3 separate regions of the Homo sapiens genome follow, and regions 1 and 3 are each linked to region 2. Evidence: fine-mapped expression QTL. A gene starts in region 2. Each other region holds a variant in brackets. All regions are shown on one strand. Distances are between the middles of the regions. Region 1 has its middle 50 kb from the start of EHD3. Region 2 holds the start of EHD3 (EH domain containing 3). Region 3 holds the start of LOC124905983 (a long non-coding RNA gene).

Region 1 (4,240 bases), 50 kb after region 2:
AAGGAGAAAATATGGTCCCAGAACCCAGTAGTGCTAAATGCAATGGAAACATTATCAAGAGGGAGGGCAAGTGAAGTTTGGTAGGAGAAAGTTTAGGAGTCCTCTAGAAGGTGAGGGACATAGTGAGAGCATGGACTACACTTGGAAGAAGTTTAGGAGTCCATAGATGAAAAAGAATTAATAGGAGCTCAAGGGAAGCAGAATTGGTTAACAAAGAGGTGACATGGGAATGTTCACAGGTTAAGAAGGAGTCGGTGGAGGAAAAGACCTTTACGGTGACCAACTGTCCTAATGCCCATATTGGGGGTTTCCTGGGTCATGGGACTTTCAGTGCTTATGTCAGAGGCGTGTGAACCAGAGCAACTCCATGTTAAATAGGAGCTGGGTAAAATCAGGCTGAAACCTACTGGGCTACATTCCCAGACAGTTAAGGCATTCTAAGTCACAGGATGAGATAGGAGGTCAGCACAAAATACAGGTCATAAAGACCTTGCTGATAAAACAGCTTGCAATAAAGGAGCCAGTCAAAACCCACCAAAACCAAGATGGCGACGAGAGTGACCTCTGGTTGTCTTCACTGCTACACTCCCACCAGTATCATGACAGTTTACAAATGCCATGGCAACATCAGTAAGTTGCCCTATATGTTCTAAAAATGGGAAGCATGAATAATTCACCCGTTGTTTAGCATATTATCAAAAAATAACTGTAAAAATGAGCAACCAGCAGCCCTAGGGCCTGCTCTGTCTATGGAGTAGCCATTCTTTTATTCCTTTACTTTCTTAATAAACTCGCTTTCACTTTGCACTGAAGACTTGCCCTGAGTTCTTTCTTGCATGAGATCCAAGAACCCTCTCTTGGGTTCTGGATGGGAAACCCTTTCCTGTAACACTTAGACCAGTAAAGTCCCAGGCAAACTGCAATGAGTGAGTCATCACTACAAAACACAAAGGGGACAGGGAGAGGATGGAGTGAGATAATTACAGGATCCTGGAGAAGGTTAACCTGGGAAAGGAAGACAGATATTTTTATATGCCAATTTTTATGACACTGAGAAGTAATATCTTGGCACACAAAGGACAGATAGGTTTATAAATCACAGAAACACGCTCTCAGTAGCTCAATTAGCTTGGTGCAAGATTAAACTCTTGGTCTCTCTCTGCTGTGTAGAGCCTTCTGATCACTGACCTTCAGCTGTCTGTCCTCCAGCTTAGGTCAGGCCATCACTCTGTTAGACCTCAGCCCTGACAAATACTTTGTAAAGCCAAGGCCACAGGCTGGTCTTCTGCTTTGGCTCAAAACACTTTCCCAAATGCTACAAAATCCCCTAAAGCCTACCCACAGAAATTCCCAGAACTTGCCTCTCCTCCAAGGTCCTCCCAAGCATCTTCTGACTGTGTTTCTTACTCTTCCTAACAGGTAACAGTGTTAGTACATTCATTACCACCAATTCACAGGTGGCTGCCAGCTCCTGACAATGCCCTTTTCTAAAACCTCAAGTCCTCAAGAGGGCTCCCCAGGGCCTTGGGAGGAAGCAGCCCGGTCTGCAGTATGTGCCATTGTGTGCCCCATCTTTCTCCCTGTTAGATATGAGTTCTAAGTTTCTTTTCAAAGAATCAATATGTCAGTATGTTCAATTCTTTGCCTTCTACTTTTAAACTTAACTTCCTCATAAAGCAACCTTTTTCGATTACCTGCTCCACCCTGACTCATTC[T/C]GATTACCTGCTCCACCTGACTCATTCCGATTACCTGCTCCACCCTGACTCATTCCGATTACCTGCTCCACCTGACTCATTCTGATTACCTGCTCCACCTGACTCATTCCGATTACCTGCTCTGTCATAACCATTTTTCCTGCCAAACCACTCACCCTGTCACTCTCTTTAAATTAGCCAATCAGAATTATTTTAGCCTGTGCAGTCTAACCCTAACCAGTAGGGGAACGACACAGCAGCAGGGGCCACGTGTGTCAGGGATAAGAACCCCTTCCCCTCCCTTGTCCAAGTGTGCACTCACCATTGCTCCATCTGTAAGGGTGCATCCTTCTATAGAAGTAACTTGCCTTGCTGAGAATTAAAAAGAGAATTTTGTATTCAAGTACAATTTCTTTTGTGGCATCAAAACTTTATTTATAACATCCCCTCCCACCCAGCCACTTCCCAGTAGAGCTCACATTCTCAAATCCCTTTGATGCCTCATCCTACCCAGCCTCCCCCCATCCTGGACCCACTTTTTGTAACAGTGATTTCTCAGGAGAAGTGCTGAGGCACACAATTTCTTTTTAGAACATCTTTTCTGAGTTTAGGAAATTCTCCAAACCTGGAAATGCCTCTCCCCTTTCAGTCAGGAGTTAGAAACGAAAAGGCATCTTGAAAAGATAAAATCAGAGGACCAGTGGATGGCTCCTGGCGCTGCTGCTATTAGCCCTGTGACTCTGAGTAGGTAACTTGAGAACTCTGAGTCTCCATCCCCTCATCTGTAAAACAGGCATTGCTGTGATCTGAATGTTTGTGTCCCCCCAGAATTCATATGTTGAAACCTAATCACCAATGTGATGGTATTAGGAGGTGGGGCCTTTGGGAGGTGATTAGGCCATGAGGGTGGAGCCCTCACTAATGGGATTAGTGTTCTTATAACAGAGGCCCAGAGAGCTGCCTGGCCCCTTCCACCATGTGAGGACTATCAACCAGGAAATGGGCCTTCACCAGGCACTGAATATGCCAGTGCCTTCTTCTTGGACTACCCAGTCTCCAGAAATGTGAGAAATAAATTTATGTTATTTATAAGCCATCTAGTCGATGGTATTTTGTTATAGCAACCCAAATGGACTATTGAGAGACAGGACTAGCTGGATTTCCTAGGCCGACTAAGAATTCCTAAGCCTAGCTGGGGAAGGGGACTGCACCCACCTTTAAATACGGGGCTTGTTACTCAGCTCACACCTGACCAGTCAGGTAGTAAAGAGAGCTCACTAAAATACCCATTAGGCTAAAAGCAGGAGGTAAAGAAATAGTCAACCATCTATCACCTGAGAGCACAGGGGGAGGGACAATGATCAGGATATAAACCCAGGCATTCGAACCAGCGGTGGCAACCCCCTTTGGGTCCCCTCCCGTTGTATGGGAGCTCTGTTTTCACTCTATTAAATCTTGCAGCTGCACACTCTTCTGGTCCGTGTTTGTTCTGGCTCAAGCTGAGCTTTTGCTCACCGTCCACCACTGCTGATTGCCGCTGTCGCAGACCCGCCGCTAACTTCCACCCCTCCGGATCCAGCAGGGTGTACGCTGCGCTTCTGATCAGCAAGGCGCCCATCCATTGCCGTTCCCTATCGGGCTAGAGGTTCGCTATTGTTCCTGCATGGCTAAGTGCCCGGGTTTGTCCTAATCAAGCTGAACACTAGTCACTGGGTTCCACGGTTCTCTTCCCTGACCCACGGCTTCTAATAGAGCTGTAATACTCACCGCATGGGCCAAGGTTCCATTCCTTGGAATCCGTGAGGCCAAGAACCCCAGGTCAGAGAGCAAAAGGCTTGCCGCCATCTTGGGAGCTCTAAGAACAAAGACCCACTGGTAACACTATGACAGGTATATAACAGGTATATATAAGTGTTAGCCTACTTATCAAATTAGAAGGGATAAATAAAAACAGATTGTCAATTCTCAGGCCCATTCTAAGAATTCTTATGTCCATTCTATAAGTAAGTTAGCAGCACCAAAAGTAACAATGAGGTGGGGTGCAGTGGCTCACAACTAGCACTTTGGGAGGCCAAGGTGGGAGGACAGCTTGAGGCCAAGAGTTTGAGACTAGCCTGGACAACATAGCAAGATCCCGTCTCTATGAAATTTTTAAAAATAGCCAGGCATGGTGGTGCACACCTGCATTTCCAGCTACACGGGAGGATGAAGTGAGAGGATTGTTTGAGCCCAGAAGTCTGAGGTTACAGTATGCTGTGGTCATGCCATTGCACTCCAGCCTGGGCAGCAGAGTGAGGCCCTGCAAGTTAACAATGAGTTAACATAAATATTTCTTGGATGGATGAATAAATGAATGAATGAATATGGGATTGCTCAGGTCAGTCAGACCTGTGGAGAACCTTAATATCAGTCAGGGCTAACAATGTGGGTATAAAAATCAGGCCAAGAAGTCACAAGTTCAAGAGCCCATGGTGGTGGAAATTTGAAGTGACTCAGTCAGCAGGCATGAAGAGAGGCAAAGTGTCGGGGTACCAGGTATGAAGCAC
Region 2 (4,240 bases):
CATGGCCGTACTGATTACAAAATTCTTGAAATACTTCCATAATGGGGCCCCTTGATTTCTTTCCTGTCACGCTGGCCATACTGACCTCTCTCCGGGGACAGGCTCAGATCTCTCCAAGGTCCAGACGCCACTGTATTAACACCAGGCGTGGCACGGGGCCGCAAGCCTTGCTCCACTAGGAAGGCCAGTGTCTGTTCCGGGTGTTTGATTCTCATGCCTTGTGAGTTGTTAAATATCTTTAATATTACTCCTTAGGTTCGTATGTTGGTAGTAGCTAAACACCAAGGGTGAAATATTAATCTGAGTGAATTCTCAACAAGAGATGATCAGTTTTGGGGTTCAAGGAGGGAGTCGGGAGATCTGAGATGTAACTAAGGAGATTCTATTCAGCACTGGCCTCTGATAATCCCCCCTCCCCTGAAATCCCTGCAGCTTCACCACACTCCTCTTGAAGCTCCTGCAGGCACTTCAAACGCAACACGTTTTAGATTGAACACATTATCTCTGTCTGCTAAATCAGCTCTCTCTCTGCCTCCCCTAATTAGTGGAAGAGCTTCTCCAATGATCTTATCCCCTATGGTAGAAAATTCAAAATCATCCTAGACTGTGCCTCACCCTTATGTCCTCTTTTTTTTATCACATACCAAGATCTGACAATTCTATTCCATGAAAAAAATCTTTTGAGTCTGACCTCTTCTCCAATCCCATTGCAGCTGTCTCCTAAGTTTTGGAATAGTTTCCTAAATGGTCTCTTGGCCTCTGTATTCGTCTGTTTTCACACTGCTGTGAAGAAATACCTAAGACTGGGTAATTTATAAAGGAAAAAGGTTTAATTAACTCACAGTTCTGCATGCCTAGAGAGGCCTCAGGAAACTTACAGTCATGGCATAAAGGGAAGCAAACACGTCCTTCATAAGGCGGCAGGAGAGAGAAGTATGAGGAACCAAGTGGGAAGAGCCCCTTATAAAACCATCAGCTCTCACGAGAACTCACTCACTATCATGAGAACAGCATGAATGAAACTGTCCCTATGATCCAATCTCCTCCCACCAGCTCTCTCCCTAAACGCATGGGGATTATGGGGATTACAATTAGAGATGAGATTTATGCGGGGACACAAAGCAAAACCATATCAACCCCCAACCTCTTTTGCCCCTCCAACACTGCTCTTGGCATTCCAGTTCCTGCCTGGTCCATAGCCTACTCCTTCTTCATCTGTGGAAGGGAGGGTAGTGGGAGTCATTAGCCTGGGCAGGGAGGAGTGTTTTATCACTACACTGTTTAGAATGGTGCCAATACAAAGCACATCAACTTTCAGCAAGTTTATTATTGGGTTTAAATTCTCTACACACGATGCACTGCTTTTGCCTACACCTGGACAGTGTTCCCACTCACTCTCCTTAGTATGATGCTGGAGATAATATGATCTGCCATGAAGGTTAAATAAAGCAATGTTCACTGAGAACTTAGCCCAGGCCCCTGCACATGCTGAGCATTTTGTTAATGTAACAATGATTAGTAATAGCATTGCTATTGGTTCCCCATCTCTGGCAAAGCCTTTCATGCTTGGCCTCCCTCACTCTCTTTCACCTTCCTAAACCCTACACTCCAGCTATGCCAAACTGTTTACTCTGCCTTGGACACACCAAGTTCCTCAAGCCTTTGCAAATACTCCTTACGCTCCTAGAACAATGGATGTCAATTCATCATTTAGGATCCAGCTTACAGTCATGCTTTCCATGAAGCCTTCCTCAAATTAGCCACACAAAAGGAGTGACTCCTCCCTGTATTCCCATGACCCTCTGCTCATGCCTCCTCTTTAAAGCCTGCCTTCACTGGAGTTCCTGGAAGGGAGAGTCTGTTCAGCACTCATCTCTGTATCCACAGTCACCAAAATTGTAACTGCCCCATAATAAATTCCCAATACTTGCAGGGATTTTGCTTCTTGGCTTGTTTTGTTTTGCTGGAATGAATGAATAAGTAAATGGGAACGATTTTGACTTCACCCTAAGCCTAGCTAAAAGTTTGGGTAGTGACAGTTTTGGTTATTTTGTGTAACCTGATAGTGGATCCCCTTTCTATGCCAAAAAAAAAAAAAATCCCCCAATACTAGAGTACCTGTTTTCCTAGGGAATTGACCTCAGCAACTGAAGGAGAGGCGATTCAAAGCAGGGAGTGTGATGAATAGGTCAACTCTGTCCTCGCAGCCGTCCCTGAGAGGGCGCTGTTCCCAAATCGAAGCCCCAGAGGCGGAGACTGAGACACCGGCACTCTCCCACTGGACTGGGTCAGCATCCCTCTCCCCGCGCGGCCGCAGGTCTAGAGCTGAGCGCCTGCCCACAAACATGGCGGCGCCCTGCGCGGCTTCCCGTCGCCGCAACCGTGGGGCCGGCCCTGCCTTGCCAGTACTAGGGGACTTCCTCTGCGCGCCGGCTTCCTGCCCAGCTGGCATTTAAACCACCGCCTGGGGCTGCAGGATGCTGCTGCGGATGCAGAGCTGTCCGCGGGCTGGGCAGCGTCGCCGTCTCCCCTGAGCCGCCTCGGTCCGGCAGGAGCGGAGCCGAAGCATCCCTTGCTGCACGCAGGGCAGAGCAGGCGAGGGCTGGGGGCCGATCGGGGACCCCGGCTTGGGACCCCGGCATCTGGCAGTTTCCTTGCAGGTTCAACTTTAATTGCCAAGATTTCACCCCTCCTCCTCAAGCCCAGATTATTTATCCTCCCTCCGGCCTGGGCTGCTGGATGCAGCAGCGGCTGGGCTTGGTCCCAGGAGCAGGGAGAGTGCGCTCCCGGCCCTCCTAGCCGCGTGCCCGGGCCATGGTGCGGCTGAGCCCCGCGCTTGGGTGAGGCGGCGGCGCGGCTCGGAGCCCGGCGGACCGGTCCTACGGGACATCTTCCCCTGAGGAGGAGTCTTCCCCTGGGGCTGCGTGCCGGGGGCGAGCGGCGGCCGCGATGTTCAGCTGGCTGGGTACGGACGACCGCCGGAGGAAGGACCCCGAGGTTTTCCAGACGGTGAGTGAGGGGCTCAAGAAACTCTACAAGAGCAAGCTGCTGCCCTTGGAAGAGCATTACCGCTTCCACGAGTTCCACTCGCCCGCCCTGGAGGATGCCGACTTCGACAACAAGCCCATGGTTCTGCTGGTGGGCCAGTACTCCACTGGGAAGACCACCTTCATCAGGTGAGCCGGCCCAGGGTCCTGGCAGCCCACCCCGGAGCCCAGCGCCTAGTCCCTCCGGTCACTCCTGGTGCTCCATCCCAGACAGGGGACCAATGGGAAGCCTTCAGTTGAGGGCTCTGAAGAGATCTGTGTTTGTGCAGGCGTCAAAATCTTACCCCACAATTTTTGCTGGTCCCCCTTCCCATCCTACCCAATACCTGTCCACTCTACTTGGCCCTTGGCTGTGGTGGTCAACCTGAAGTATTCAAGTGTAAAGCCATTCCCAGTCTCCCCATCTTATGGATGATGAAACCGAGGCCCAGGAGGCACAATGGAAGAGCTCCTGGTCTCTGGAGCGCCTTATGTTGGTGGGGATGTCTTACGTCTTCACTTTTTAGCAACACATCATTCACGGGCAAAACCTCTTCCCTTGTTTTTCAAGGGGCTTGGCACTCACATGGGGGCCTCACAGTTGCAGCTGAGTTCTGATGGGTGCGGGCCTGGGAACGGAGGTGGCCTGGGGATGCTACTTGTCCTCCTTTTATCATTTCCTTCTCTAAAGCAGAGCTCCTGTGTATATATCTTGGAGACTCAACAGAAGCTGAGTCCAGAAGCAGAATGCTTTTTTTTTCCCCTTTCTCTTATTTGATCTTAATGGCTTAATAATAATATTAAAGACGCTTAGAGATGGAAGGGATATTGGCATTGTCTCATCCAGTTGCTGAGTTTGCAGGTGAGATAACCGAGGCGCAGAGAAGTTAAATGAATTGTGCAGAGCCATCTAAAGAGTGGGCAGCAGACCTGGGATGTTAAGTCCTAGATGCATGTGAGGAGATGCTTGGCTAAACGCCTGTAACTCTGAGAATGAGTCATCCATTCCCTTCAATTACAGAATCCTTGGGCTGGAGGGAGGCTCAAGAAGTCAATTTGTTCACCCTGCATTCAGAGAAGTCCACCAGAGGCCCTTCTTATCTTTAGAGAACAGGCTTCACTCCAGTCCTCAATCTTCCCAACTTCAAGGCCAGCCATTTTCTTGGCCCCTTTTATAGCCATTCCAAATTGTTGAGAATGCTGTGGCCCTCTGT
Region 3 (4,240 bases), 32 kb after region 2:
GTTTTAATGTGAGGAATTCTTTCAAAACAAAGATTCTCACCTCATTTGTTTGCCAGTTCAATATTCTGTTCTGCAGTTCAATATGCTGAATCCACAATGTAAACAGCTGTCCTGTGTGGGTGTCCATCGTAGGGTAATGGGAGCACCCACCATGCCCCCTAGTTGATACTGGGACCCCTGCATGGGAGCCCACCAAACATACCTAGATGTGAGCAGGCTGGGAGGGACAGGAGGAATGAGAGGTGGGAGGACCTTGGGACGTGATGCTCTGAGGGGTGGGAGATAGGGCCCTGTCTGCTCCTCCTCCAGGAGTCCTTCAGCCCTAAGGCCTTCCTGGCTCAGCCTCACCCTAGGAAGGAGGTGAGAAGTACCCAGGCTAACACTTGCCCTAGAAAGCTGTGGGTGTTTTTTGCATTTTTCTGCAGCAGACTAGCTGTGCTTCACCCTGTGTACTGGCCTCTTCCCAGCTTCTGGAGAGTTAGGTGGCCAGAGCCAGGGTAGGAGCAGAAAGCTGTCACCCTATCACCCTCTACAGGCCATGGAGAAGTTGGTGTTCTAGACTCGAAAACTTTCAAAATTGCAGAGACCTGCAAAGTGGAAGATATTTCTTTTATGGTGTGGTGTGGGTTGTCATGTGAAGGCAAGAGGAGCTCTTTCAAAATCGGCATGCCCACCTGCCTGCCTGTGCCTGCTGTGTCAAACCCTCGGGGACAGTCATGCCTTGCTAATGACAGGGACACATCCTCAGTAATGCATTGTTAGGTGATTTTGTCATTGTGTGTGAACACCATAGAATGTATATACACAAACCTGCATGGTAGGGCCTACCACACACCTGGACTATATGGTATGATGACCTATTGCTTCTAGGCCACAGACCTAGCATGTGACTGTACTGAAGGCTGTAGGCAATTGTAACACCATGTATTTGTGTATCTAAACATAGAAATGGTACAGTAAAAATACAGTATGAAAGATAAACAGTGGTATACTTGTACAGGGCACTTACCATGAATGGAGCTTGCAGAACTGGAAGTTGCTTTGGGTGGGCCAGTGAGTGAGTGGTGAGTGAGTGTGAAGGCCTAGGACATCACTGTACACTGCTGTAGACTTCTTTAGAAACACTGTACACTTAGGCTACACTATATTTATTTTTAGAAACATTTTCTTTCTTCAATAATAAATTAACATTTCTACTTTACAGACTTTTTTTTTTTTTTTTTTTTGATACAGAGTCTCACTCTGTTGCTAGGCTAGAGTGCAGTGGCGCGATCTCGGCTCACTGCAACCTCCAACTCTGGGTTCAAGCGATTCTCCTCAGCCTCCCGAGTAGCTGGGACCACAGGCATGTGCCACCATGCCCAGCTAAATTTTTTTTGTAATTTTAGTAGAGACGGGGTTTTCACCATGTTGGCCAGGATGGTCTCGATCTCTTGACCTCGTGATCCGCCTGCCTCAGCCTCCCAAAGTGCTGGGATTACAGGCATGAGCCACCGCGCCTAGCCTACAAAGTTTTTGACTCTTGTTGTAACAATTAGCTTAAAATGTACATTGTATATCTATACACAAATATTTTCTTTATATCCTTATTCTATAAGTTTTTTCTATTTAAAAAAATTTATTTTTTACTTTTTTATTTTTGTGTGTGCTAAAAACTAAGATGCAAACACCCATGCTAGTCTAGGCCTACACAGGGTCAGCATCATCAGTTTCGCTGTCTTCACCTCCACATCTTGTCCCACTGGAAGGTCTTGAGAGATAGTAATACACATGGAGGTGTCATCTCCTGTAATAACAATGCCTTCTTCTGGAATTCCTCCTGAAGGGCCTGCCTGAGGTTGTTTTACTGTTAACATTTTTTTTAAATAAGTAGAAAGAATACACCCTAAAATAACAATAAAAAGTACAGTATAGTAAATATTTACATAAACCAGTAAC[A/G]TAGCCGTTATCATTATCCGGTATTATGTACTCTATGGAAATGTGTGTGCTAGATTTTTATACCACTGGCAGCACAGTAGGTTTGTTTACACCAGCATCACCACAAACACATAATGCGTTGTGTTGTGTACAGTAGCTACAATGTCACCAGGCAACAGGAATTTCCCAGCTCCCTTATTGTCTTCTGGGACCCTCGTCATACGTGTGGTCCCTCATTGACTGAAACATTGTAATGCAGCACATGACTGTATTTTGAAAACTCTCCTCAGGTGACTCCGATGAGCATCCTGATTAAGAACCATAATTTGGGGATGACCTTTGGCTTCTGTTATGATTTGGTTTTAGTACCCTGTGCCCTGTTTGGTTTTTGTTTTTGTTTTCACTAAGTGGGGATAGAATGTGATTTTCCTACCTCAGAAGGGCGCTGGGGGAGTGAACGAGGTAATGTAGTGAAGGCACTTGCGGTGATTTTCAAGTACAGTATAACCCTTATTAAAGTAGAGGCCCACATGACCCAGTCTCAGAGGTACAGCATTCAAGAGACATGATTCAATAGCCAAAACTGACTTAAAGAGAAATGTAATGATTTCCTCTCTGGAATGACATTGAAGGGGATTGAAATAAATAGATCATGCCAATACTTGTTAAATTTCCCTTTCTTCCCCAGCCCCTACAACCCTTCTACCCCCTACTGAAAAATCCCATCATCAGCCCAGTGGGCCTTTATTCCCCTCCTCTCTCATACCTTCGATTACCACGTGATGTCCATCAGCTGAGCCTCTAGGTCACAGGTCTTTCATTGTAGAAAGGGATCAGCTGTGAACATTCTGGTGCTCATAGGAGGCACGTGATAAATGGAGGGCTCTCCTTTCATCGTATCCTATCTTCATCCTCTCTCCTCCTCTTCCCAGGACCAGCTGCAGGCCCAGGACTTTAGCAAGTTCCAGCCGCTGAAGAGCAAGCTGCTGGAGGTAGTGGACGACATGCTGGCCCATGACATTGCCCAGCTCATGGTGCTAGTGCGCCAGGAGGAGTCACAGCGGCCCATCCAGATGGTGAAGGGCGGAGCGTTCGAGGGCACCCTGCACGGCCCCTTTGGGCATGGCTATGGGGAGGGGGCTGGAGAAGGTATCGATGATGCTGAGTGGGTGGTGGCCAGGGACAAGCCCATGTACGACGAGATCTTCTACACCCTGTCACCGGTGGATGGCAAGATCACAGGCGCTAATGCCAAGAAGGAGATGGTGCGCTCCAAGCTGCCCAACAGTGTGCTGGGCAAGATCTGGAAGCTGGCCGACATTGACAAGGATGGCATGCTGGACGACGACGAGTTTGCACTGGCCAACCACCTCATCAAAGTCAAGCTGGAGGGGCACGAGCTGCCCAACGAGCTGCCTGCCCACCTCCTGCCCCCGTCCAAGAGGAAAGTTGCCGAGTGATGGGGTGGGGGGACATTCAGACGGGCAGTGTTAGAGGAGGAGATGGGAGCGGTGACTACACACACACACACACACACACACACACACACAAACATGCACACACACATATGCATATCTTGACATTGCTCTGTAGGTGAGAGAGGACCATGACGCCCATGTTTGCAGCTGATACTTGTTTGGGCACACCTCCAAGTTCTCGGGATTAGAAGGACAAGAGCACTCCCAGGCCCCAGAGTCTAAGCCTAAGTCTCTATCGCTCTTCCCCTCTCCTCGGCCACTCCCCAGATACCAGACCTGAGGCAATTCACTTGCCAGCACAGATGGCCAACCCACCTCCAGATTCCCCAGTGCTTCCACACCCGGGCTCTGAGCAAATGGAAAAGACTTTTCATTTAGTAGACAATTCACTTCTTTTTCTGTGCTTCCCCTATCTGCTTTGGCTTCCTAATAAGAAATCCATTCAAGAGCTAGGAGATCTGAGGGCAGGCGGGCAGCTGCAGGGAGGAGAGGTGAGAAAGGAAGCGTCTTCTAGAGACATTGGCCCAGGAGCTCTGTTCTTTCCTAATCTAAGCCTCTGTCTTCTTCGGCAAACCTTGCTTTGAACTCTGCCAGTATTTCATTTTAAAGAATCCCAGAGCGGGAGAGAGAAGAGAAAAAAATTGATAAGAGTGAGGAAATTGTCCTGTAGTCTATTGAAAACCAGTCAAGGTGGTTTTAGTTCATAGATTTTGTTAGATGTTCTTTCCACCTGGCCTATGATGTTTAGATGTTCATACTTGACTCACATTTACCCAGCCCCTCCTGCGTACCAGGAGCTGTGTTAGGCACTTTATATACATTATTCTATGTGGCCCTCACTGATG

What was found. PIP is the estimated chance that this variant, and not a neighbour inherited with it, causes the effect.
Region 1: its variant is the best candidate, but not a certain one, in a credible set for the expression of EHD3 in esophagus mucosa (GTEx, PIP 0.54).
Region 3: its variant is the best candidate, but not a certain one, in a credible set for the expression of EHD3 in lung (TOPMed, PIP 0.71).

What each region holds. Positions count from the first base shown.
Region 1 is chr2:31,281,882-31,286,121 of GRCh38, forward strand. No RefSeq gene overlaps it. Among named protein-coding and RNA genes, the nearest start is that of EHD3, 50 kb to the left of the region's middle. The variant T/C (reference allele first, on the strand shown) is at 1,716.
Region 2 is chr2:31,231,673-31,235,912 of GRCh38, forward strand. It overlaps EHD3 (EH domain containing 3), which reads left to right and starts at 2,480. Exons shown (of 6, transcript NM_014600.3): 1 at 2,480-3,176. The coding sequence starts at 2,950. It also overlaps a transcript of CAPN14 not described here.
Region 3 is chr2:31,263,328-31,267,567 of GRCh38, forward strand. EHD3 (EH domain containing 3) reads left to right here. Exons shown (of 6, transcript NM_014600.3): 6 at 2,850-4,240. The coding sequence ends at 3,377. It overlaps LOC124905983 (a long non-coding RNA gene), which reads right to left and starts at 2,613. Exons shown (of 4, transcript XR_007086270.1): 1 at 41-2,613. The variant A/G (reference allele first, on the strand shown) is at 1,939.